Regions from separate parts of the Homo sapiens genome. Here region 1 is linked to region 2. Evidence: fine-mapped expression QTL. Tissue or cell type: thyroid. Region 2 holds a variant in brackets; the other region holds the start of a gene. All regions are shown on one strand. Distances are from middle to middle. Region 1 holds the start of TMEM132B (transmembrane protein 132B). Region 2 overlaps TMEM132B (transmembrane protein 132B).

Region 1 (2,902 bases), 31 kb after region 2:
GCTTGGCCGCGGCTACCCTCTCCCGCCCGCCTTGGGGTCAGGGCGCTGGAGTAGACCGCGTTTGCAGGAGGCGCGCAGCGGGCTGCTCTTTGGCCAAGAGGAGGCCATTTGGCGAGGGTGGGTAGCTTGGGGAGGGCAGTGTGAAAGCAGGGGAGGGCCGCGGGGCGTGGGGAGGGGCTGCGGACAAGCCAGACAGCGCCGGCCGAGACATCTCCGGGGCCCGCAGGTGTCCCGGGAACGCACCACTGTGCGACCGCGGGCAGCAAGACACTGGAGAAGGGCTGCGTCGACGCCCCCGCCCAGCAAAACCCCTGGAGGAACTGGGACCTGGGGGGGATTTGGCCCAAGGCAGGGCGGGGAGGGGGCTCGATTCCTGCAGTCGCGTCCCCACCCGCCTCGAGAGGCTGAGTGCCCCGGTCTGTGGCCCCCGTGCGTCCCGAAAGGATCCGCAAGGAAGCTAAGGGTTTGGGGGAGAAGGCAGGCGGGCTCTCCCCAGGCGCTAGGCAAAGGGGAACGCGCCGGGGGCTCCTGGGTTCCCAGGGTCTCCCCAGGTCTGTCCAAGTCCGGGAGATGCGCGCTGCCAGGGACTTGAGAAGGAGGTAGCCGCCCGTTCACCCAACTTTGTGCGCCTCGGCCGGGGTCGGGGATGGGGTCCGGGGACGCGTTACCTGGGCACTGGAGCGCAGTCAGCGCCAGCAGGAGCCCGAGCGGCGGCGCCCGGCCCGGGGGCGGCATGGTCCTCGGCGCGCGGTGGGTGCGGCGCGGGGCTGCTCCTCTCGCGCGCCCGGCCCGGCCCGCGGCTCCCGGAGCAGCCCCCGGCGGCTACGCCCGGGCGCCGGGCATGGCTCGCTCCCAGCGCGCCGCTCCTCCCCAGACGCATGCGCCGGCGCTGGCGGCGCTTCCTCGGCTGCGCCTCTGCGCGCTCTCCTGGGCTCGGCCGTGCGTGGCTGGGGAGCTGGGGCGGCCGAGGCTCAGCGCCCCGCGCCCTGGCCGGCTGCCCCGCAGTTGGCCCGAGTTGCGCGGCCCCCGCCGCCGCCGCCGCCGCGGCTCCTGCGCCCCAGCGCCCGTCCCATCCCGGTCGCGCCGCCGCCGCCGCCGCCGCCTCTGCCATCGCCATCTGCCGGCCGCCCCTCGAGCCAGCGAGAGAGTGAGCGAGCGAGCGAGCGCCGGGGGGAGGAGGAGGAGGAGGAGGAGTAGGAGGAGGAGGAGGAGGAGAGGAGCGGAGGGCGGGGCCGCGGCCGGGGGAGGGGCCGCCCGGGAGCCGGGGCACAGGCGGCAGCCCGGCCAGTAGGCGGCGGGACGCGCCACTGCTCGGCGGTTCGGGGGAGGGCGCCCGGCCGGGAGGCTCCGGGAGCCCGCCGGGGGTCGCGGGCGCTCGCGGGTACAGGGGCTGCGGGAGGGGTGCGCAATGCAGAGAGGGGATGCCCAGCTAGATCCGGCGTCTTGGGGCGCAGCGGTAGGAGTTGCCAAGGTCGAGGGGTGAGGAGGCCAGCGGAGGGTCACCGGGATGGGGCAGCGACCTCTGGAGAGGTGGTGTCTGCCGGGGCCAGAGACTGCAAGACTGAGCGCGGACAGGAGGTCCCGGGTTAAATGTGGCACAGCTAGGGAGTGCCTGTGGGAGAGGGGAGAGGAGAGAGGGGAGGGCCTCCGGGAGGCCGAGGCTGTGTGCAGAGCCTCTGCACGGCACCGGGATGGGGGCTAGGGGTGCGCAGGCTGGGTGCGGTGACCTGAAACACAGCGAAGGCGGCCTGGGGATGGCCACCCGGGTGAGGCAGGGTCCCTTATTTACCCAGGCTAGAGGATGCGCCTTCCCATTTCGCGCAGGCCCTAGGAGCACGCGGAGGCAGCCAGGAGTTCTCCTGGGAAGGGCAGATTCCCTGGCGGTCCCGGGAATGAGTTCCCAGCGCAGGGTCAGGCAGTGACGGAGCGGAGGTGTTGCGCAGGGCCGGGTACTAGGTGGTCGAATTCTTCCATCCAGGGGCAGGGACGCAGCCAGAGTGCGGAGGGAGGTCACAGGTCACACGGAGCCCCAGTACCTATTATCCCAGAAACCACTGATCCTCCTGGGCGCCCCACCCCCAACCAGGGCAAAGCCACGGGGGGCTAAGCCGAATGAATGAGTCATGCTGGGAGCATGTGGGGGAGCCTCCAGCAGCGCTCAGATGCCTTCAAGCTTCCCCACCACGCTGGGAGGACAGGGGATATGGGGGGTTGCCCACCTGGGAGGGTGGCTTGGAGTCCTGGCTCCGCCCCAGCCCCCACCACACCAGCCACTTGCTCTGCCATCTCAGTTTTCCATGAAAAAGTGGGTCAAACTCTTTGAAAATGGTCAATAAGGCAGCGTGGGGTGATGAAAAGACAGATTTGGGGAAGGCTCTGGAGTCATGGAGTCTTGGCTGAGAATCCCAGCTCTGCCGCTCCTTAGCTGTGCAAGCTGGGGCGAGTCCCTTATTCCTCCCTGAGCCTCAGTTTTCTCATCTGAGAGATGGAAGGCATTGCACATCACCTGGTGTCCCCAATAACACATACAAAGCCCCTGACCTAGGAAGTCGGAACTCATTTAAAGGAGTCAGTGTCAACATTATCATTCTCATCATCATGGCCATTATTATGATAGATCTGATTTTCCTCTGCGGGCCCAGAGCTCACATCAGAAGGACAATCCTCCCCACTCCCGGCTGCCAAGAGGGGATGGGGGACAGGGCACCTGCTTGATTAGTACAGACAAGCTCATTAGCAGAGGCAGCACTCAGTTCTTCCTAGATAAAAGAAGGAAGAAAGCCAGGGGCAGGTGGTGAGTCTCCAGCCCAGGTTAATTAGGAGACGTAAAGGGATTTTCCCGTGGCTGTTAATCGGCTTCCTTTACAAGGGGCCCATGCCCAGGCCAAGCCCCCTTTGGGCT
Region 2 (2,902 bases):
TGCACTGGAAATCTAGAAGCCAGATACAAAACATTACAATTTCACAGCAAAGAAAAATAGCTCTGGAAGCTCTCGGTCACAAGGACAAAGAGACAAAAATCTATGGAAAATACTAAAATAGGCCCTTTTTTCTCATTTTAAGGGGAAAGGACGATTGAGAGCTTGCCTTTTTTTCTTTTAAAATATTTTTATTATATAATTTAAGTTAAAAAATGCACATGGCATGAAATTCGAAGAATACAAAAGCACACCATACAACATTATCACCTCCCATCCCTTGTCCCCCAGGCAATCCATTACCCTCCCAGAAGGTACCCAACTCCCCCAGTCTTATAGGACTCCTTAGGGTGTTGCTCCACCTATTTGCAAACATATACATGTGTATTGTTCTCTTGTCCACACTTGGCAGTACTAACTCCCTACATCTTGCTTTATGCATTAAAAGCACATCTTACAGTTCCATCTCCCTTAAAATTGGCCCGCCTCATTTTTTAACAGCTGCAAAATATTTCCCTGCATGGATATGTCATAATTTGCTTAATCAGTTTAGGCTATCCTCAAATCTCTCCTCTTACGAACAACTGCTGCAGTCATTATTAAGACATTTTGCACACGTGGAAATTTATCTGTGTGATAAACATCTCAGTGCGCAATTGCTGGGTTCAAGGCATGGACGTTTTAATTTTGATACATAATGCCTGTCAGTGCATTTAGAATTAAAGGAAGGAAGGCCAGGCGTGGTAGCTCACACCTGTAATTCCAGCACTTTGGGAGGCCAAGGAGGGAAGATCACTTGAGGCCAGGAGTTTGAGACCGGCCTGGGCAACATGGTGAGACCCCCATCTCTACATAAAAAAACATTGTTTTAATTAGCCAAGCATGGTGGTGCCTGCCTGTAGTCCCAGCTACTCGGGAGGCTGAGGCGGGAGGATCGCCTAAGCCTGGAAGGTCAAGGCTGCAATGAACTGAGATTGTGCCACTGCACTCCAGCCTGGGCAGCAGAGCAAGACCCTGTCTCAAAACAAACAAACAAAGAATTAAGCGAAGGAGTATATAGGCAAAAGAGAACACTTTCTACATCTATACCCCATCCCAGGCCCTGAAACTCAGAATGACCTAAAAGTACTGGTA[C/T]CCCAATATATAAGATGGGAAACTGAGGCTCAGAGAGGAGAGTGAGTGACCCAGCCATGTACCCGGCCCCCAGCCTGGCCTCTCTTCCCCACCCTCCTGCCTAGCTGCCACTGAGGTATGGCCTGCAGCTGGCTCTCTGCCTCCCAGCCCATGAACTCCAAGTGCCCTGAATCTGTTGATTTACGGTTCTGCTTTGATACCCATATTAATCACCATAACTTTTAATTGAGCTAACACAAGCATCGTATGTTGCTAATTACACAATGCAGATGAAAAACTCTTCCAGATGAATTTAACTGCTTAGTCCAATCAGACTGGCAAGTTGAGTTTTAATTACAAGCCAGTGCATACAGGGAAGGCATCTGCGCGGCCGAGTGGCTCAGGGCCTGACGGCTCCAGCTTGTGAAGCGCCAAGATCGCAGCCAGTGGCCACAGCATCCTGCCCAGCCACGCAGGAGGCATGCGGATAATGGAGGAGCTGCTCGATGCCTCCGGCCAGCTTGCTGCCTCCGTGGACCCACCCGAGCCCCTGGGTCCAGACATCTGTGGAGTCTCTGGCAGGAAGAAGGATCTCCAAGTCCCCACGGCTGCACTCCCCAACCATTCCAGCTCAGAAAAGGAATCACTGACTCCTTTTCTCAGGAACTAATCAAAGGCCTGTTATCAGTGACCTTTTCTTGAACATCCTTTAACATCCTGTCAATTTGCCCACACTCACAGAGCAGAGAGAATCAGGCCACGATAACGGAGTAATTCCAAGGGCAATGCCAGGCTGAAAAGACATCTCAGCACTGATTTTCTCAACAAAGACACAAAGAAGGCCTCCAAGGCTGAGGGCTGGAGAATAAAGCTTAGAGGAAGAGAGGTGTTACAAAATGAAGTTTTGTGTTCACCTCCCCAAGCCACATGTGAAAGCCCCAATGCCCAAGGTGACTATATTTGAAGGTCAGGCCTTAATGGAGGTAATTAAGGTCACATGAGGTCATAAGGGTGGGACCCTGATCCAACAGGACTGGTGTTCTTTTAAGAGGAGACATGAGAGAGCTTCTCCCCTGCTTCAAGCCTCCCCACCCACCCTCTACCTTTAGGACACAGAGAGGAGGCTGCCATCTGCAAGCCAGGAAGGGAGCCCTCACCAAAAACTGACCTTGCTAGCACCCTGACCTTGAACTTCCAGCCTCCAGAACTGTAAGAAAAGAAATTTCTGTTGTTTAAACCACTCTGTGTGGTATTTTCTTATGGCAGCCCAAACTAATACAGGAGGCAGATGGAATCAAGGCCTCCAGGGATGCCCAAGTTCAGAGGCCAAAGAGCAGAGAGATTCTTAAGAAGGGGCAGATAAAGATGGCTGTGGTAAGCAGAATAATGGTGCCCAAAGATGTGCATGTCCTAATCCCTAGAACACTGCCCTCCTGGCAATAGAGACTGTGATCAAGTTAAGGCTCTTGAGCTGGGGAGATTACCTTCTGTTATCCAGGTGGACCCAGTGTAAGGGTCTTTATAAGAAAGAGGGCCAGTGCAGTGGCTCACGCCTGTAATACCAGCACTTTGGGAGGCCAAGGCGGGTGGATCACCTGAGGTCTGGAGTTCAAGACCAGCCTGGGCAACATGGTGAAACCCCATCTCTACTAAAAATACAAAAATCCTCTAGGCGTGGTGGCGCATGCCTGTAATCCCAGCTACTCGGGAGGCTGCGGCAGGAGAATCACTTGAGCCTGGGAGGTGGAGGTTGTGGTGAGCTGAGATTGTGCCATTGCACTCCAGCCTGGGC

What was found.
Region 1: it holds the start of TMEM132B, and the variant in region 2 is fine-mapped to the expression of TMEM132B in thyroid (GTEx, PIP above 0.99).

What each region holds. Positions count from the first base shown.
Region 1 is chr12:125,184,633-125,187,534 of GRCh38, reverse strand. TMEM132B (transmembrane protein 132B) reads right to left here and starts at 1,149. Exons shown (of 9, transcript NM_001366854.1): 1 at 669-1,149. The coding sequence starts at 735. RefSeq lists a silencer at 1,157-1,366 and an enhancer at 1,415-1,948.
Region 2 is chr12:125,215,581-125,218,482 of GRCh38, reverse strand. The region is part of intron 1 of TMEM132B (transmembrane protein 132B); the gene reads right to left. Among named protein-coding and RNA genes, the nearest start is that of TMEM132B, 31 kb to the right of the region's middle. The variant C/T (reference allele first, on the strand shown) is at 1,132.